2 separate regions of the Homo sapiens genome follow, and region 2 is linked to region 1. Evidence: fine-mapped expression QTL. A gene starts in region 1. The other region holds a variant in brackets. All regions are shown on one strand. Distances are from middle to middle. Region 1 holds the start of CNKSR1 (connector enhancer of kinase suppressor of Ras 1). Region 2 overlaps CATSPER4 (cation channel sperm associated 4).

What was found.
Region 2: its variant is fine-mapped to the expression of CNKSR1 in whole blood (TOPMed, PIP 0.94).

What each region holds. Positions count from the first base shown.
Region 1 is chr1:26,172,438-26,182,924 of GRCh38, forward strand. CNKSR1 (connector enhancer of kinase suppressor of Ras 1) reads left to right here and starts at 5,054. Exons shown (of 21, transcript NM_006314.3): 1 at 5,054-5,162; 2 at 8,016-8,173; 3 at 8,278-8,459; 4 at 9,420-9,504; 5 at 9,924-9,965; 6 at 10,043-10,147. The coding sequence starts at 5,111. RefSeq lists an enhancer at 9,633-10,134.
Region 2 is chr1:26,197,858-26,208,344 of GRCh38, forward strand. CATSPER4 (cation channel sperm associated 4) reads left to right here. Exons shown (of 10, transcript NM_198137.2): 5 at 100-220; 6 at 429-562; 7 at 2,027-2,201; 8 at 2,973-3,184; 9 at 3,497-3,662; 10 at 4,632-5,107. The coding sequence ends at 4,685. Among named protein-coding and RNA genes, the nearest start is that of CATSPER4, 12 kb to the left of the region's middle. RefSeq lists enhancers at 115-614, 3,598-4,570. The variant G/A (reference allele first, on the strand shown) is at 3,536.

The DNA.
Region 1 (10,487 bases):
GATCCCCCCGCCTTGGCGTCCCAAAGTGTTGGGATTACAGGTGTGAGCCACTGCGCCCGGCCAATTTAACCCATTTTTTCAAGACAAAGTTTCTTCAGGGACTTCCCTGCCCTCAGCTTGAAACAATAATAAAAGCATATCTGCATATACCAATTAAGGAAGCTGCCCGTGATACGTTAAAAATAGTAGTCATTGTTCTAAGCACTTAACTTGTATTATTTCATTTGCTATCGATTATCTCTTAAATGAAAAAGTATGGCTGGGCAGCACTTTGGGAGGCTGAGGCAGGCAGATGGCTTGAGCCCAGGAGTTCAAGACCAGCCTGGGCAACGTGGTGAAACCTCATCTCTACCAAAAAAAAAAAAAAAAATTTAGCCAGGCATGGTGGTGCATGCCTGTAGTCCCAGCTACTCAGGAGGCTGAGGTGGGAGGATCACTTGAGCCCAGGAGGTGGAGGCTGCAATGAGCTGAGGTTGCACCATTGCACTCCAGCATGGGTGACAGAGCCAGACCCTGTCTCCAATAAAAATAAAAAAGAAAAAGTACAATTTGCAGAATAGTATGTAGACTATCTGCAGATATAGAAAATAGAAGAATATCCCAAATTTAGTAGTGGCCCCCACTGGGGAACATGATAGAGACACACTGGGGAAAGGGCACATCCTTCTTTCACTTAACCTATTACCTTTGAAATGTATACAGCAAATATGTAGAACTTTATATTCATAAAGCTTTTTAAAATAGGCTGGGCATGGTGGCTCACACCTGTAATCCCAGCACTTTGGGAGGCCAAGGTAGGTGAATCACTTGAGGTCAGGAGTCCGAGACCAGCCTGGCCAACATGGCAAAACCCTGTCTCTACTAAAAATAAAAAAATTAGCTGGGTGTGGTGGCGCACACCTGTAATCCCAGCTACTTGGGAGATTGAGGCACGAGAATCACTTGAACCTGGGAGGGAGAGGTTGCAGTGAGCCAAGACTGCGCCACTGCACTCCAACCTGGGCAGCGGAGCAAGACTCTCTCAAAAAACAAAATGAAACCCTTTAAAATAGAAGTTGTCAGCCGGGCGTGGTGGTTTACGCCTGTAATCCCAGCACTTTGAGAGGCCGAGGCAAGGAGATCACTTGAGGTCAGGAGTTTGAGACCAGCCTGGTCAACATGGTGAAACCCCATCTCTACTAAAAATACAAAATTAGCCGAGCATGGTGGCACACGCCTGTAATCCCAGCTACTTGGGAGGCAGAGGCAGGAGAATAGCTTGAACCTGGGAGGCGGAGGTTGCAGTGAGCCAAGATCATGCCATTGCACTCCAGCCTGGGCAACAAGAGCAAAGCTCTGTCTCAAAAAAATAGATAAAAATAAATAGAAGCTGCCACTTACTGTGTTCCTAACTGCCTAACCCTGGCAGATGCTGGGAGCGTAGAGTAAAGGCGCCGTGGTTCAGGGAGAGAGGGGGCTGGTTCTCACCTCTGGTGGCAGCTCAGGAAAGATATTTGATGAAATCAAGATCTGTCTACCGAACACTGATAAAGGCTCTATTAGAATTTACTGGACTTCCCCAGAGTGCCACAGGGAGGCTGCTGCATGAAGAGGCAAAAATGTTAAACGAGGATGCAGCACGGAGTGTTCAAGGGACACAGACCTGAGGCAAAAGACAAAGCTGGAGACGGGCATTTTGCAAATTTGAAGCCAACTGGCTCACAAAATGAAAGAGGCTGTTAATACCAAGTGTGAAGGTGGGATGGCATCACCAGAGCTGGCCAAGTTCAGAGAAGCTGGAAATCTCAATTTGGATGTGACGTTATTAAATGATGACAACACACGTACACTACATGGGCCAACCATGGGCGAAATTCAGACTTTGGGTCTCTGGGTTACAGGTAAGGTCGTGACAGGCTTTGATGACTGGGGGTGCTGCAGAAATTCTGAAGTAGGTGACAACAGGTAGCTCCTCCCCACAGAATTAAAGCAATAATAACTCATATCTACCCCATGATACAGATTTCAAAGTACTTAATGTCATCACAGTGCTAAGGCCTAGGAATCCCCTTCTGGAGACAAAGAAACAGATTCAGAGAGCTGTAGAAGTTGGGCTGAGTCACATAGCAGTTGAGTATGGAACTGATTTTATCTGATTTTTTTTTTTTTTGAGACAGAGTTTTGCTCTTGTTGCCCAGGTTGGAGTGCAGTGGCGCAATCTCGGCTCACTGCAACCTCTGCTTCCGGGTTCAAGCAATTCTCCTGTCTCAGCCTTCCGAGTTGCTGGGATTATAGGCGCCCGCCACCACGACCGGCTAATTTTTTGGATTTTTAGTACAGACAGGGCTTCTCTATGTTGGCCAGGCTGATCTCGAACTCCTGACCTCAGATGATCCACCCGCCTTGGCCTCCCAAAGTGCTGGGATTACAGGCATGAGCCACCGCGCCCGGCCTTTTTTTTTTTGAGGTGGAGTTTCACTTTTGTTGCCCAGGCTGGAGTGCAATGACGCGATCTCAGCTCACCGCTACCTCTACCTCATGAGTTCAAGCAATTCTCCTGCCTCAGCCTCCCGAGTACCTGGGATTACAGGCATGTGCCACCACACCCGGCTAATTTTGTATTTTTAGTAGAGATGGGGTTGCTCCATGTTGGTCAGGCTGGTCTCGAACTCCTGACCTCAGGTGATCCGCCCGCATAGGTCTCCTGAAGTGCTGGGATTACAGGCCTGAGCCACCACGCCCGGCTGATTTTATCTGATTCTAAAGTCCTGGGAGTCCCCTGACCTGATGATGATGATGAAAATGAACATTTACTATGTGTCAGATATTTTTCTAAGATTAAAGCTCTTGCTCTGAGGTTCAGAATTCAGGGGATCCATAAACTTGGATGGGAAAAAATTATATTTTTATTTTTGCTAAACTCTAACCAAAATTTATGATTTCCTTCTATATGGATTGAAGCAGTAGCAGTATCTTTGGCTTAGTCACCAATAGAAATCACATATTTTCATATCAAATTGTAGTTATTGCAAGTATCTCAAAATATTTATGCTCAAGTGATTTCAAAATCACAGTGGTTGTTAAACCACCACTAAATTGTTCGTGAGCAACTTCTGTTTCAGATGCTCCTGTGATGTAGCCGCCATTAATTGGTTACCTCCAGGCTTAGCAGTGGTTCAGTGACCAAAGGGCGAATCTGCCTGTTCTGAGTAGGGCTTCTCCACTCTTCTGCATTCCCTGTCTTTTTTTTTTTTTTTTTGAGACGAAGTCTTGCTCTGTCGCCCAGGCTAGAGTGCAGTGGCGCGAACTCGGCTCACTGCAAGCTCTGCCTCCTGGGTTCACGCCATTCTCCTGCCTCAGCCTCCTGAGTAGCTGGGACTACAGGCGCCCGCCACCATGCCTGGCTAATTTTTTGTATTTTTAGTAGAGACGGGGTTTCACCATGTTAGCCAGGATGGTCTCGATCTCCTGACCTCATAATCCGCCCGTCTCGATTATAGGCGTGAGCCACCATGCCCGGCCCAGCATTCCCTGTTTTTAGTTGTTTGCTGATCAATATGTAAGAGGAGGGGCGTCAAAGACCACCCCACAGTTTAATGTCCTTATTCAAGCTGGTCGACAACACACTGAGGTCATTAAAAAAGAAAAATTTAACTTTCGGCCAGTCTTATTAATGTTAGTAAACACATAATATAAATTTCTGGTTTTATTTTTTTGAGATGGGCTCCTGCTATGTTGCCCAGGGTGGCTTTGACTCCTGGGCTTGAGTGATACTCCCCCGCTCAACCTCTCAACCTCTCGAGTAGCTGGGACTACAGTCGTGTGCCAGCACTCCCCAGCTCCAAATTTTTTTTTTGTTTTTTGTGGGTTTTTTTTTTGAGACGGAGTCTTGCTTTGTTGCCAGGCTGGAGTGCAGAGGCGTGATCTCAGCTCACTGCAACCTCCGCCTCCCAGGTTCAAGCGATTCTCCTGCCTCAGCCTCCTGAGTAGCTGTGACTACAGGCGTGCACCACCACACCCAGCTAATTTTTGTATTTTTAGTAGAGACGGGGTTTCACCATGTTGGGCAGGCTGGTTTCCATCTCTTAACCTCATGATCCACCCGCCTTGGCCTTCCAAAGTGCTGGAATTACAGGCGTGAACCACCATGCCCGGCCAAATTTGTTTTTAAATATAGTTTTGATAATTGTTCTCATTGTAATCCTAAGCATTTTGTTTTGTGCATTTATTTATTTATTTATAATACAGAGTTTTGCTCTGTTGCCCAGGCTGGAGTGCAGTGGCACGATCTTGGCTCACTGGAACCTCCCCCTCCTGGGTTCAAGGGATTCTCCTGCCTCAGCCTCCTGAGTAGCTGGGATTACAAGCACCCACTACGCCCAGCTAATTTTTTGTATTTTTAGTAGAGATGGTGTTTCACCATATTGGCCAGGCTGGTCTTGAACTCCTGATCTCAAGTGATCCGCCCACCTCGGCCTCCCAAAGTGCTGGGATTACAGGCGTGAGCCACCGCGCCCGGCCTGTTTTATGCCTTTATAAGCAGCTATTCTGAGAAAGCATTCACAGGCCTCACCAGATGCCAGAGTCCATACTGCAAAATCCAAGGGAGGCTAAACACCCCAGTTCTAAATGTTTTCAAGCCATTCAGATACTGTGCACAGCTGCCCTTTGAAGTACGGTCTATTATATCTCTTTTACAGACCCAGAAACTGAGGCGCAGAAGTTAGGGTCAGCCCCAGGTCACACAGCTAACAAGAGCTGGCCTAGGCACCCAGGGACCTGGCCCCCTAGCCTCTGTGCTTTGCTACTGATTTCAGCGCTCCTCTTGTGGCTTTTTCTTGAGGAGCCCAAGGGTCAGGGTCCCACCCCGCGATATGAGGCCAGTGGCACTGCCCCCTAGCAGGCGCGAGATGCCAGAGCCCTAGGATGTCTGAAGGGCCGGGCAGGAGGCGGACGGGCGTGGGCCAATGGCTGTCGCAGTGCCTCATCTTGCCGTCTGTGTGAGCCCAGGTATGCAGTAGGCTCCGCCCAGGACCCAGCCCGGCCCCTCCTTAGGCCTGGGCTCTGGGAGCGGAAATTCCGGCGACAGCAGGGCAAAACAGGAGCTGATTCGAGCTGGCAGAGCTGGGCCATGGAACCGGTAGAGACCTGGACCCCCGGAAAGGTGGCAACTTGGCTGAGAGGTGGGTGGGGCTGGGGTAGAGTTGGGCTTGAAGGGGACTAGGTGTGGTGTCCCACCGGGAAGCGGGAGGAGAGGAAAAGGAAAAAAAATCTGCGGACTGGGTGCGCTGGTTCACACCTGTAATCCCAGCACTTTGGGAAGCCAAGGTGGGTGGGTCACCTGAGGTCGGGAGTTCAAGACCAGCATGGTGAAACCCCGTCTCTACTAAAAATACAAAAATTATCTGGGGGTGGTGGCAGGTGCCTGTAATCCCAGCTACTTGGGAGGCTGAGGCAGGAGAATCGCTTGAACCCAGGAGGCAGAGGTTACAGTGAGCCGAGATTGCACCGCTGCACTCCAGTCTGGACGACAGAGCGAGATTCAGCTCAAAAGAAAAAAAAAAATAATAAACTGCGGGCTCTATCAGTCGGTCAGTCAGTCAACAAATATTTACAGAGCACCTAACATGTTCCAGGAACCGTGCTGGGCAGAGAGACAGATGAGATGACCCTGGGGGGCCCAAGGACCCAGAAGGGGGCCCCTCATCATGGCAGTAGCCCAAGAGGCCTCTAGGGTGATAATGGGGAGGCGGTGTCATGAAAACAGGAGGGAGGCCTGACAGGCCCACACCCACTGTATCTCCTTCATCTTCCCTGGCCCCAGGGCCAGTGGGCTGTTGTTAAATCCGTTTCTTAGAGTCAGAAACTGACACACAGAGCCAGGAAATGATTTGCTCAGTCTCTGGTGTCATTTTCCCCGCTCCACACCCTGAGCTCCTAGTGACAGAAGCAGAAGCCCTAGGCCAGACTGAAGAGGTTGACACAGCCCCACCCTGGGGCTCCTATCCAAGGGGCAAGGTGCTGTCCAGGCTCAGCGAGCCCACACAGATGGGAAGCAACACACCCCACAGGCAGACTCAGAGAAGGAAGGGCCTCCTGACACACAGTGCGACCAGGAGCAGGCAGTCAGGACACCCCTCCCAGAGTGGGGAGCTGGAGCGCACTAGAGACAGGCTCAGGAGGACCAGCCCGGGTAAGGGCAGGAATTCAGGGCTGGGTTCAGACTCCCAGGCTGGATTCCAGGCCCACCCCCACCGCTTGCCAGCTCTGTGACCATAGGTCTTAGTTTTTCTGTCCATCAAATGGGAAAGGCAACTCTGACCTTATGAAGTCGACAAAGTGAGACAATCATGACATAGTTCATTTGTAGCTCAATGCCTGGGTCTATTGGGAGGGCACCAGCCCAATACAGTCACCGTGCAGGAAGGAGGTGGCTCAGGGGCCCATAGCCAGGGAGTGATAGGTTCATGAACTCCCAGTCCAGTGCTCTCAATGTGACACAGGGAACACACACACACACCTCCCCCAGTGAAGGAGCCTGGCTTAGAAGGGGAAGAATTCCTTCGAAGAGTGAGCAAGCTACTTAACCTCTGTGTCAGTTTTCCCATCTGTAAGCAGGATAATGATAGTCTTTACCTCCTAGAAATGCAGTGAGAATCAAATGTGTTAATATGTGTAAAGCTCTTATAGATTTGCATAGCACATAGTAAGCCCTCAATAGACACTTTTCTTATTTTTCAGTGCCTACCTTGTCCAGGCACAGGCCGGGGGTTAGAGACAAATGGTTATCTAAGGCCTGATCTTTGAAGAGCCTGTGATAAAATGGGAAAGACCGATGGTCAAGTGCAGGGGTTTGTGGAGGCTCAGGGGCAGTGGGAACAAGAGGAGAGCCCTCCATCCCACTCAGCCTGGGAAGTTATGGAAGGCTTCCTGGAGGAAGTTAGATGAAAAAGGAAGTGAAGGAGATAGAAGAGCAACGCCAGCAGGAGGAATAGCACTTGCAAGGACGCTGAGGTAAAAGGGTGTTCCAGGAGCTGCAAGGAATTAGCTCTGTGCATCTGAAATGTTGAGTTTAGGGGGCTCTTCAGGATATGATGCTGGAAAGGGAGGTAGTAGCCTAATCATACAGGGCCTGTAGGTCATGGTAAAGTCTGGCAATAATAATATGATGGCTATTATTGGCTGTCTCCCACGAACCAGACAGTGGCCAAGGCCTTGACATATGTTGTGTCATTCAATACACACATGATTAGAAGGTAGGTACTTTTATTATTCTCACATTACAGGTGAGAAAACTGGGCACAGAGCAGTGCTATTACTTGCTCAAGTGTTCACAGTGTCTCAGTGACTCCATAGCCTCTTGTTCTTATCCCCTGTATCATTAGTTCTCAAACTTAAGGGAGCATCACAGTCACCTGCATTAAAATACAAACTGCTGGCTGGGCGTCGTGGCTCACACCTGTAATTCTAGCACTTTCAGAGACTGAGGCAGTCAAATTGCTTGAGCCCAGGAGTTCGAGACTAGCCTGGGCAACATGGTGAAATCCCACCTCTGCAAAAAATACAAAAATTAGCTGGGTGTGGTGGTGTGTGCCTGTAGTCCCAGCTACTTGGGAGGCTGAGGTGGGAGGATGGATTGAGCCTAGGAGGTCAAGGCTGCAGTGAGCCGTGACTGTGTCTCAAGCCCCTGTCTCAAAAAGAAAAAACAAAACAAAAACAAAAAAAAGACTGCTGGGCCCCAACCTCAGAGTTTCTGATTCAGCAGGTGTGGGGTGAGGCCTGATAATTTGCATTTCTAACAAGTTCTCCGGTGAGTCTGCTGCTGCTGGTCTGGGGGCCACTTTTAAGAACCCATGTCCTATACTTTCCTGCTTCTCAACTCAGTGGCCTCATCTGTGAAATGGGCAGAACAGCCTGGGTGTCAGAGTTGTCATTAGGGTTAGACTAGAGGGAAAAGAGCTTTGCAGGCATGAAGAACCATCCCAAAAGGTCCTGACACCTCTGCTTCCCCGAGCTGAGCCTTACTCTCCCTCCAGGTCTTGACGACTCCCTGCAGGACTATCCCTTTGAGGACTGGCAGCTGCCTGGCAAGAACCTGCTCCAGCTCTGCCCCCAAAGCCTCGAGGCTCTGGCTGTGCGGTCTCTGGGACACCAGGAGCTCATCCTGGGCGGGGTGGAACAGCTCCAGGCCCTGGTGAGTGAATGCTGGTCACACTGGCTGCAGCTTCCACCAACCTGGGGGGTGTGATGGGGGGCTGGCTGCTGCCAGGGAGGTGACTTGCCCTCTTTCTGGCACAGAGCTCCAGGCTACAGACAGAGAACCTGCAAAGCCTGACAGAGGGACTTCTGGGGGCAACCCATGACTTCCAGAGCATAGTCCAAGGCTGCCTGGGGGACTGTGCCAAGACCCCTATTGATGTCCTCTGTGCAGCTGTGGAGCTGTTGCATGAAGCTGACGCCCTCCTCTTCTGGCTCAGCAGGTACCCGGGTTGGGGTGACGAGTGAGGGACTATTGTCATCCTTGGCCTCCTTCAGGGCGTGGGAGAGAAAAACAGATCTTGGCTCTTGTTCAGATATGGTGAGCCAGGCGTGGTGGCTTAGGTCTGTAATCCCAGCACTTTGGGAGGCCGAAGCGGGCAGATCACTTGAGGTCAGGAGTTGGAGACCAGCCTGGCCAACATGGTGAAACCCCATCTTTACCAAAAATATACAAAATTAGCCAGGTGTGGTGGTGCGCACCTGTAATCCCAGCTACTGGGGAGGCTGAGGCAGGAGAATCACTCAAACCTGGGAGGTGGAAGTTCCAGTGAGCCGAGATCATGCCACTGTACTCCAGCCTGGGCGACAGAGTGAGACTCCCTCTCAAAAAAAAAAAAAAAAAAAAAAAAGATATGGTGGAGCAGGGCAGAGGGATTAATCCACCTGTGCAGGGGCACTGGGATGCCAGAGTTCCCACCCCACCCTCCAGCTTGTAATAATCGATCTCATCAACAACCACTGAATGGAGAGCCTCCCCAACCCTGTGCACTGGCTGCTGCTTGTCCTACAGACCCCACCTCAAATGTCATCTCGGGGAAGCCTTCCCTGTTGTACACTCTCCAAGCTATACTATTAATAAATAATAAATAATAACTTATTATAAACTCATTATCCAATGTTTCATGATACTCATTACAGCCAAAGTTAAATTGATATTGATGTATGATGTCTTTACTGTCTGTTTCCCCAGTGCCTAGAACAGGGCTTGGCATGTGGTAGGCACATGACAAATAAGTCCTGTGCTAATCTCTTTAGATGTCTCAATCATCTCCTTTACTCTAAACCAAAACCCATCAGAGCAGGTATTATCCCCAAGTCTCTGAGGTGAGTAATTGGTGAGTAATTGGCTCTGAGTGGTTAAGCATAGTCCCTTAACCACTGTGCTATTCTTCCCCTGCCAGGTACCTCTTCTCCCACTTAAATGATTTCTCAGCATGCCAGGAGATCCGAGACTTGTTGGAGGAGCTGAGCCAGGTCTTGCATGAGGTAGGAGAACCAAGGGCCAGGCTTGGCCCATGCCCTAGAGACCAAGCTGGGCTAGAGCTTTTTATAACCTGTGAATCAGCCCAGGATCGAGTATGAGGATTGAGACGGGCGAGAAAGGAGGAGAGGAGGCCCTGCCACTGGGTATGGGACAATGGGGCCTGGGGTCCCCTAGCTGGCAGGGGAATTTTGACACTCAGGACAGGGAAGGAGGGGAGGGCACGTGTGGTGACTTCTGGGGGCCTGGTATCAGGGAAACGAGCCCTCTGGTTAAAACGCTGAGGCCCTGTGGTTCTGGGCAGGGGGCCAGTGTAGGGAAGGCAGGGAGGGACTGTACGGAATCCCACCCTGCCCCCAGGAGAAGGCAGTCCCCTTATGGCCCTTGCTCAGGGGAGGCCCCTGCTCTCTCATTCTACTTCCAGGATGGTCCAGCGGCTGAGAAGGAGGGCACAGTCCTGAGGATCGTGAGTCTGTGGGGTGGGAAGAGAGTGGGGGTAGGGGCGATCGGGCTCAGGCTACATAGCCCGCTCCCCTCCCCCAGTGCAGCCACGTGGCTGGGATCTGCCACAACATCCTGGTCTGCTGCCCCAAGGAGCTGCTGGAACAGAAGGCCGTGCTCGAGCAGGTGCAGCTGGACAGTCCATTGGTGAGCCCTGCCCTCCCACCTCTCACTTCTGACCCCTTGGCAGCCTTGTCTGGGCCCTGAAATAGGGTCCAGGATCCCACAGAACCCTGTGCTGCCATGGCTGGAAAGCCTTTTTTGTACAGATGCTAAAATGGAGGCCCAGAGGATTGGCCAGGGTCTCCCGTTGCTCTGCACCTCCCCAGTCCTGAGGGGCCACGCGGGTGTGGCCTCAGGTAGTGTGTTCCAGCCTTGGGATGGAGACGGGGCAGGGGCTTGGGGGCAGTTAGGAGAAAGGGAGAGGATGTGACCTTTCTTGGTTTAATCTTTGACCAGTGGGGAAGACCAGAGCCCTATCCCTGCC
Region 2 (10,487 bases), 25 kb after region 1:
CTGGAGATCAGCTTTGCCTCTCTGGGCAGCTGGTGGGGGTAATGAGGAGGGAAGGGGCTGGGAAGGGCCTAGGGGCACCCCTGACAGGCTCTGCCACAGGGCGCTTCGTCTGGTGCATGTGTGCATGGCGGTGGAGCCCCTCGCCCGGATCATCCGCGTCATCCTGCAGTCGGTGCCTGACATGGCCAATATCATGGTCCTCATCCTCTTCTTCATGCTGGTCAGTGCCTGCCCCCGCCCCCAGCTGTTTCCCTTCCCTGAACAGGGCCCTTGGGTCATTGCAAATAGAGGGGTGTCTGGAAAAGCAGAGAGGCCTGTGGGCCTGAATCCCTGTGATTTCCTCAGCAGCGTTCATTTACATGACATTTGTGTGTCCTATTTCCAGGCCCTTTGGTGAAGTCGGGGTGGGGCTCTTTTCTCTCTGACAGGTTTTTTCCGTGTTTGGAGTAACACTCTTTGGTGCATTCGTGCCCAAGCATTTCCAGAACATACAGGTTGCGCTGTACACCCTCTTCATCTGCATCACCCAGGACGGCTGGGTGGACATCTACAGTGACTTCCAGTGAGTGCCAGTGGGACTTCCAGCCTCATCCCACCTATGGGGCAGGGTAGCCGGTGGAGCTCCAGGCTGAGAGTGGGAGCTCCAGGGATTGGGATGAGGATGGCCCAGTAGAAGTGGGGGTTCCCAGGTCTTTAAACAGAGGAAAAGGAAATACCTGGACTTGTGATACCTGAAGCCTTGTCACCCTTGAATCTCCATATATTCAGAGTCCCATTCCCACCCTGTAATGGGGACCTCTCCCATCATGCTAACCAGCTGGGTAGTTGGCCTTGGATAAGGCAGCAGGTCTGCAGTTATGCCTCAGGTTACAGAGCAACCTCCCAGCCCACCTTGGAGCCCACCAAACTGCCTGAACTCCTGGGAACTTCAGGTCTCATTTCATTCATTCTTAAACCCACTGCCCACATTCATTTTTGTGTTCTGTTCTTTACCTCTTTTCTATTAAGTCTAAGCCCTATTTCTTTCCAGTTTATTCCAGAAAGTGGGACCCCTTAACTGATTTCTTTTTATCTTCTACATGTGAGTATAGAAGCCCAGTAGATAAAGGGCTTCTACAGTCATTCTCCATTATGGCATAGGTAGTGGATAAAAATCAGGCTGGCCGGGGCCGGGCGCGGTGGCTCACGCCTGTAATCCCAGCACCTTGGGAGGCCGAGGTGGGCAGCTCACGAGGTCAGATCAAGGCTATCCTGGCTAACACAGTGAAACCCCATCTCTACTAAAAATACAAAAACAAAGCCCAGTGCAGTGGCTCACACCTGTAATCCCAGCACTTTGGGAGGCTGAGGCAGGTGGATCACAAGGTCAGGAGTTCAAGACCAGCCTGGCCAAAAAGGTGAAACCCCGTCTCTACTAAATATACAAAAATTAGCCGGACGGTGGGGCGCCTGTAATCCCAGCTACTCAGGAGGCTAAGGCAGGAGAATCGCTTGAACCTGGGAGGCGGAGGTTGCGGTGAACCCATATCACGCCACTGCACTCCAGCTTAGGTGACAGAGTGAGACTCTGTCTCAAAAAAAAAAAAAAAAAATTAGCCAGGCGTGGTGGCAAGCACCTGTAGTCTCAGCTACTTGGGAGGCTGAGGCGGGAGAACGACATGAACCCAGGAGGTGGAGCTTGCAGTGAGCCGAGATCACGCCACTTCACTCCAGTCTGGGCAACACAGCGAGACTCCATCTCAAAAAAAAAAAAAGGAGTGTAGCTAATAGATTAAACTTAATAGTGTTGATGTGCACGTCCCCACCTTGCAGGGTTGGTTAGAGAATCAGCTCACTGTCTGGCAGCACAGTAGGTGCTTAGTAGAGAGCAGCTATTGAGACAGGAGTAGGGAATGGGATCTGCACAACAGCAGTGACACAGGCAGAAGTTCTAGTAGGCCTTGGGATGATTTTCCCATTTCAATGACAAGGAAACTCAGGCTTGAAGGGCCAGGGAAATGATGGGGCCCCTGCCTGCCATCTGCAGGACAGAGAAGAGGGAATATGCAATGGAGATTGGGGGTGCCATCTACTTTACCATCTTCATCACCATCGGTGCCTTCATTGGCATCAACCTGTTCGTCATCGTGGTGACCACCAACCTGGAGCAAATGATGAAGGCAGGAGAGCAGGGACAACAGCAACGAATAACCTTTAGTGAGGTGCGTGGGATGGGGAGGGCAGAAGGGAGGAAAAGGAGTGTGTATGAGAGCGGACTTGAACATATGTGCATGTATGTGTGTGCTTGCATAATCAAGGGCCTGGAGAAAGCCAAGTTGGAGGCCTGGAGGCAGCAGCCCCCCATCTTGAGTGCCCACCCACCAACTGGGGCTTCTGAGGGGTGTGGATTTTCTAGATGTTAGATTTCTATGGCAACTCAAAACTGAGCAGCTGGGTGACCTTGGGGCATTTACCCACTCTAAGCCTCAATTTTTTTCTTTTGTAAAATGGGAATAATAATAGTACTTAACTCATAGGGTTATTTTATGAGGGTTAATGGGTAAATGAACAGTGCTTGGCGCATAGTAAGCACTCAATAAATGTTAGCTACGGTATTATTCATTCAGGGCAGTACTTCCATAAGGTTGGGGAAAGGGGTGGAGTACTTCTAAAAGAGTGGAGTGCTGGAGGCCTGGGCTTGAGGGTAGGCAGGGCTTTATAAATTTGCTGGGTAGGGTTTATCAGGGTTGAAATCTGGGGCAGGGCTAAATTTTGAAATGGGGTGAGAATTTTTAAAGAGGTGGGGGGAGGTCATGTGCATTTAAAGTTGGGTTCCCCCAGCAAGGCAGTGAGGCTAAGATTGGTGAGAGCTGAAATGAGGGCCTTAGAACCCTGGGGTCCTAAGAGACTCATCCTGAAGCCAAGCAGGAAAAGGGTGCCGGGGGCGTGCCTGCCTGAGCTGTCCCGACCCCTCTCTATCCCCCGCTTCCCAGACAGGCGCAGAGGAAGAGGAGGAGAATGACCAGCTGCCACTGGTGCATTGTGTGGTCGCCCGCTCGGAGAAATCTGGTCTCCTCCAGGAACCCCTTGCGGGAGGCCCCCTGTCGAACCTCTCAGAAAACACGTGTGACAACTTTTGCTTGGTGCTTGAGGCAATACAGGAGAACCTGAGGCAGTACAAGGAGATCCGAGATGAACTCAACATGTAGGGGAGGGTACTGGGGCTGCCCCCAAGTCATGTGAGTCAAGGCTGGGCGGAGCGTCAGAGTCTTCTGGCCTCACGCCCTCACCATTTATAAGGCAGAGCCTGGGCCCCACAGAGGTCCCCCACCCTATTGGTGGAGGAACTGGAATCCAGACTCCAGGTTCCTTCCATCTCACACAAGGGCACAGCTCGGCCTGGGTCTCTGTCAGGGCTGCGTGGGAGAGCGAAGCGGGGGTGACGCCAGGGAAGAGGTGGGAGGGCTGCTTCCCTCCCCTGAGGCCTTCTGAAAGGCACTCACTGCTCCACCCCCAGGATTGTGGAGGAGGTGCGCGCAATCCGCTTCAACCAGGA[G/A]CAGGAGTCAGAGGTGTTGAACAGGCGCTCGTCGACGAGCGGGTCGTTGGAGACTACGTCATCCAAGGACATCCGCCAGATGTCTCAACAGCAAGACTTGCTCAGTGCGCTCGTTAGCATGGAAAAGGTGTGCCTTCCTTCTCCTACCCAATGGGTACTCGCCCTGACACTCTGCTCAGCCCAGCCCAGCCGGGCCTCTGGACCATTTGTCAAAGTTTCTGTCTATTCCAAGATCTGGTCCCCCTCACCACCACCACCCCTCCTTTTTTTTCTTTTTTCTTTTTCTTTCTTTCTTTCCTTTTTTTTTTTTTTTTTGAGACGGAGTCTTACTCCATCGCCCAGGCTGGAGTGCAGTGGCGCGATCTCGGCTCGCTGCCACCTCTGCGGCCTGGGTTCAAGCGATTCTCCTGCTTCAGCCTCCCAAGTAGCTGGGATTACAGGTGCTTGTCACTGCACCTGGCTAATTTTTGTAGTTTTAGTAGAGATGGGGGTTTCACCATCTTGGCCAGGCTGGTCTTGAACTCCTGACCTCGTGATCCACCCTCCTTGGCCTCCCAAAGTGCTGGGATTACAGGCGTGAGCCACTGCACCTGGCTGTCTGCCTCTTAAACTTCCATCTGCCTCAGCTGTCACTGCCTATCTGGTTAGGTTCTGCACTTTCCTTCTCGGAAAGGCTCCACCCTTCCTGCCAGTTTCATCTCTAGTGCCTTCAAACCTACCCTTTCTTAGTGTGTGTGGCATGAGCCAGCTCAGTGCCTGCCTAGTGGCAGACACTTAGGCTGTAAGTATAGTGTGGGCACAGGACCCAGGATCCTATCTAAGGTGCACAAAACCAGCTGTCTCCTGAACTCCTGGAGAGAAAAAGGCACACACCCACGTTACTTAGTTTCTTTTTCTGCCCCTCCACACCATCAGCCTGGGATATACCCTGGGCTCCCAAACTCAGAGGGGGTACTAGGTAGGCTCAAGTTAGACCTATGAAGCACTTCTCTGGGAGGCCTGGCTGGGGAAGCTGGTGAGACTGGAGGAGGTGAGTAACGGAGGCTGCCATATCGGGGGGAGTGGGGGATTAACAAGAAGACCTCTTGGTTTGCAGGTTCATGACTCTAGCTCACAAATACTCCTTAAAAAACACAAGAGCAGCCACTGAGAGGCCAGGATGGGAGCCAAGGGGCCTGCACACACACACCCAGCCGCTGCGTCTTCCTGTGTCCTTAGTGTGGCTTGGCAGAGCCTGGCCAGAGCCCATCCTCTCCCTTATACCTGGGCAGAGGCCAGGGGCTGTGAAGGTGGCAGCACCTGCAGGTCTGGTGCCTGTGAGCCCCAGGTCCGGTGGAGCAAGGAGAGAGGAGGATGCTGGATGATGAGAGTGGGAACCCTAGCAGCAAGGATGAGCACAGAAGGGGGTGCTGGCCAACGCAGCCAGGATTTGACCTAAGGATGGGGATCCCTGGCCCCCTGCTCTTGCCCAGAGCTGGTGGGGGGCCTCAGTGGGCCCCAGAACCAAGAAGAGAAAGGCAAGGCCAGTGGGGCCAGACATCTGTGTGTTGACAATAAAGTTTTGTGTTGGAATCAATGTCTCTGACTGGTGGATCTCCAACTCCTTGGGGCACTTGCCTGGGTCTAATAGGAAAGACAGATCTTGCCCCTCAAAATCCCGTTTGTCTGGTGGGAGAGTCACAGGCTGCCCTGAAGAGCATCCAGTCTAATGGGAGGGAGAATTGCACCCCTAAAAATTTCTGACTTAATGGTAGAGATATAACCCTTGCCCTCAGGGTCCTAAGCTTTGTGGAGGAAAGTCTGGTCCTCATGGGAGGGAGCCCCTGTCTGATGAAGGAGATGGCCCTACCTGCTCTCTCCCTGTCTGAAGATGGAGACTGGTCCTCACTCTGGGGAGCCCTTGTCTGATGGGATCACCAATGACCAAGTCACACAAGTACAGGCACCTCCATCCTAGGGCAATGGAGACTGACTACTTAAAATGTGGGTCCTGGCAGCTTCCTAGAGGAGAGGAAGATTTTGCGGGTCAGATGAATGAAGTCTGGTGGGGAACTTAGGACCTGTGAAGCCTATTTGGGATCTTCATACTCAAGGCCACTGAGAGCCTCAGCAGGTTCCTGAGCTATGCAATCTGGGGAGAGTCAGAAAATTGTGGCAGTTATGGGCAATAGAAAGAGCTGCCTTGGAGGACAGGAAACCTCGGTTCTGGTCCTTCAGTGAGTCACTTGGCCTTGTTTTCCCCATCTGTGCGATGGAGAGAGGGTGAGATTGATCTCCATCTCTAAAATCAAATAATCCCCTCTTATCCCAGGAAGTGGAAGACCCATGGGATCAGCTATGTCCCTGGGATGCAGGTGTCAGGGGATAGCCTGGAAGGCCTGGACATCTGCCCTGTTGTTCAGCGAAGCCTGACACTTAGGGGCCGTGGCGATATTCACCAGTTGGAATGGGAGTCCCCAGAGGTCCACTGATTGCAGCTGATGGGAAACCCCACCCCCCATCGTCCTCCCATCAGCATTGGTTCCAACTCTGAAAAGCCCCCTGGGGTCTGTTGGGAAGGAGTCTGGCCCCTGGGGATGGATGGTGCACTCAGTAGGCAGATGAGAGGCAGCAACAGAGCCAGCAGTGCCTTACTGTCTCGGAGCCGTTAATCTATTCCCCTGTTTGAGCCAGGACTTCTTCCCAGCACCCTCCAGGACCATCAGCAGCACAGAGAAGGGCACCCAGCGGATTTTGCTGCTGCTGTTGCTACTTACTGGAGATGGCGCCCTCAACCTGCCTGGTGAGTATCTACATACTCTTTCCACCCATCTTTCTCTGGGGGCCCTCTCAGCCCCTCTTCTTGTTGGCCAGAGAGGGAAGAAGGTGGCAGATCAGATGGTGTCTTCAGGAGGAGCTAACAGTTTGAGTATGGCTATCCTTCACCCCTAACTGTCTGAAAGGCTTGGAGCATCAGTGAGCTTACAGTCAGGAGCACAGCAGGGTGACCTCCATGGAGCTCCTGGCCTTGACCATCTATCTCCTCCAGGATGCTATTTTGTCTATCTACTCCCTTCATCTTGTTTGTCATCTCATCTGTCTCTGCCTTTGTCTTTCCCATCCGGGCCAACCTAACAGCCTGGAGTTTCAGCAGGCTAGTTCCTTCCCAAACTGGCCTGGAACTGAGGGCCCAGGAAGTCATACTCTCCCCTTCCCCTTCCCCTTCCCTACTCCAGCAAAGAGCAACTACCACTCCCCATGCCTTACTGAGCCTGAGTTAGGAGTGGGGCCCCGGATTCTGAGCTCCTAGGACAGTGCGGGGGAAGATATTGGGAGGTGGCTGGAAATTGTGTGTCTCATCACCCCTATGGTCTCACCTGATGGGTTTCCCATCAGCTACAATCAGTGGACCTCTGGGGACTCCCTATGAGTCCATAACTTTTACCAGGGACAGGAGCATCCTTGGCAAACTGTCCAGGAAGCAGACACCAATTCTGATGACAGGAGCAGCAGGGGATAATCATTCCCAATAGCAGTTCTACTCATTGAGTACCTACTAGGTGCTAAGCATGGTGCTGAGTGCTTCACACGCAGTATTTCATCCTCATGACCATCAGTGAAGTGGGTATGAAGAGGATATGTCCCCACGGGGGACTTATCCTCCATCACAGAACTGAGATCCTAACCCAGGTCTGACTTCAGAGCCCAGGTCACACTTCTCAAGGGAGCTTCTGTGGGCAGGAAACCTCAATATCATAAAGATGTCAATCCTCACTGAACCTATAATTGCAGGGCACCTCCAATCACAATTCCAACAGGTTGCTTGTAGAAATTGTTAAGCTGATCCTAACATATGTAAGGAAGAACAAAAGGCCAAGAATAGTCAAGATAATTTTTTTTTTTTTTTGAGACGGAGTTTTGCTCTTGTTGCCCAGGCTGGAGTGCAATGGCACGATCTTGGCTCACTGCAACCTCCACCTCCCAGATTCAAGCAATTCTTCTGCCTCAGCCTTCCGAGTAGGTGGGAGTACAGGCATGCGCCACCAAGCCCAGCTAATTTTTTGTATTTAGTAGAGATGGGGTTTCACCATGTTGGTCAGGCTGGTCTCGAACTCCTGACCTCAAGTGATCTGCCCACCTCGGCTTCCCAAAGTGCTGGGATTACAGGTGAGAGCCACTGCGCCCGGCCTGTCAAGATAATTTTGAAGCACAAGATGGGTGACTCACCCGACCAAATATTGAGGCTTACTATAAAGTAACAGTAAGATAATGTGGTGTTGGTTGGGGGAAAGATGGACTTTTCCATAAGGGGGCAGGGATAACTGATTAACTATATGGAAAAAACATAAAGTCAGATTCAGTGGAAACATCCCTCCCTGCAAATAAAAACTTGAGACCCCTATAGCAAGACATATAGGTTCAGTGCAAACTAGATCTTTGTTGCAAATGGACCCCACAGATGACTAGAGTTTACAATGCTCCTCCACACTGAGCCAAGTCCCTCACTAGGCTAAGAGGAACATGGAGGCCCAGAGAGAGGTGAGACCTTCCCCAGCGTCACCCAGCAAGCCAGTAATAGAGCCAGGTGTAGAGCGTAGGTCCCCCTACCCTTTCCAAGCATCCTTGCCAATTCCCCTGGCCTGTTGCAATCCCTTAGCTCTGCACAGGGCCAGAAGAAAGTGGGTGTGGGACTGGGCAAGGTGGCTCATGCCTACAATCCCAGCACTTTTAGAGGCCAAGGCAGGAGGATTGCTTGAGGCCAAGAGTTTGAGACCATCCTGGGTAATATAGTGAGACCTCATCTCTACAAAAAATAAAAAGAAGGCTGGGTGCAGTGGTTCACGCCTGTAATCCCAGCACTTTGGGAGGCTGAGGGGGGCAGGTCATGAGGTCAAGAGATCAAGACCATCCTGGCCAACATGGAGAAACCCTGTCTCTACTAAAAAAATAAAAAATAAATTAGCTGGGCGTGGTGGCACGCGCCTGTAGTCCCAGCTACTCAGGAGGCTGAGGCAAGAGAATCACTTGAACCCGGGAGGTGGAGGTTTTAGTGAACTGAGATTGTGCCACTTTACTCCAGCCTGGCAACAGAGTGAGAATCTGTCTTTAAAAAGAAAGAAAGAAAGAAAGAAAGAAAGAAAAGAAAAAAATCAGCTGGGCGTGGTGGCATGCGCCTATAGTCCCAGCTACTCGGGAGGCTAAGGCAGGAGAATCACTTGAACCCAGGAGGTGGAGGTTGCAGTGAGCTGAGATTGTGCCACTGCACTCCAGCCTGGTGACAGAGTGAGGAAAAAAAAAATCAACTGGGTGTGGTGCAATGTGTGTGCAATGTGGTGCGCCTGTAGTCCCAGCTACTCGGGAGGCTGAGGCAGGAGAATTGTTTGAACCCAGAAGGCAGAGGTTGCAGTGAGCTGAGATCACGCCACTGCACTCCAGCCTGGTGACAGAGTGAGACTCCATCTCAAATAAATAAATAAATAATAAAAAGAAAAATGTTAGTCGAGTGTGGTGGTGCGCACTTGTAGTCCCAGCTACTCAGGAGGCTGAGGCAAGAGGATCACTTGAGCCCAGGAGTTTGAGGCTGCAGTGAGCCATGATTGCACCACGGCACTACAGCCTGGGCAACTGAGACTCTGTCTCTAAAAAAAAAGTGAGGGTGTGGATGGTGCCAGAAAAGAAGGGTTGGTGCATCTTCAGAATTAGGCGATGGGAAGGACAAAGAATGAGCCTGCCACCTGGGCTGGGTCACTTCCAGTTTTTTTTCTTTTCTTTTCTTTTCCTTTTTTTTTTTTTTTTTGAGTTTTGCTCTTGTTGCCCAGGCTGGAGTGCAATGGCATGATCTTGGCTCATTGCAACCTGTGCCTCCCGGGTTCAAGCGATTCTCCTATCTCAGCCTTCCAAGTAGCTGGGATTACAGGTGTGTGCCACCACGCCTGGCTAATTTTGTGTGTTTTGTAAAGACGAGGTTTCACCATGTTGGTCAGGCTGGTCTCGAACTCCTGACCTCAGGTGATCCTCCCATCTCAGCCTCCCAAAATCCTGGGATTACAGGCGTGAGCCACCATGCCTGGCCAGCCTCCAATTTTCTGAGTTAGCCTTTTGAAAACTGCCAAGAGGCTGGACACGGTGGCTCACGGCTATAATCCAAGCACTTCGAGAGGCTGAGGCGGGTGGATCATTTGAGGCCAGGAGTTCGAGACCAGCCTGGCCAACATGGCAAAAACCCATCTCTACTAAAAACACAAAAATTAGCAGGGCACGGTGGCATGCGCCTGTTGTCCCAGCTACTTGGGAGGCCGAGGCAGGAGAATCACTTGAACCCAGGATGCAGAGGTTGCAGTGAGCCAACATGACGCCACTGCACTCCAGCCTCGGTGACAGAGTGAGGCTGTCTCAAAAAAAAAAAAAAGAAAGAAAGAAAGAAAGAAAGAAAGAAAACTGCCAAGAATGCAAAAACAGCACATCAGGTGATGGGCCTATTTCTGCCCATTACCCAGGGGAAAGAAGAAGGTTTCCAAGGAATCCAGCCCAACATAATTGATTTGGGCCTTTCTAGAGAGAGCAGCTGGCTCAACCATGAGAATAAAGCTGTGTTTTTGTAAGGCAGTGCAGTGTGGTAGGGAAGGCATTGGGTTCTGGTGTCTGATGGACTTTGTTTCAAATGCAGTGGCACCACTTCCTGGCTGTGTGACCTTGGACAGATGTCTTCACCTGTCTGATCCTCAGTTTCTTCATTTGATAAATGGAAATAATAGTCCTTTTCTACAGGTTGGTTGTAAGGATTTAATGTGCCTGTGCATTGGAGCAGCACCTTACCTGGGCAGGGTGACACTTGAACAATATCAAAATGATCCTTGACTGCTATGACACTCAATGAAACACTCGGCTTGCAGTTAGGGGTCATATTGTTCAAAAAATTCATATCTTTAGGCCGGGCACAGTGGCTCATCCCTGTAATCCCAGCACTTTGGGA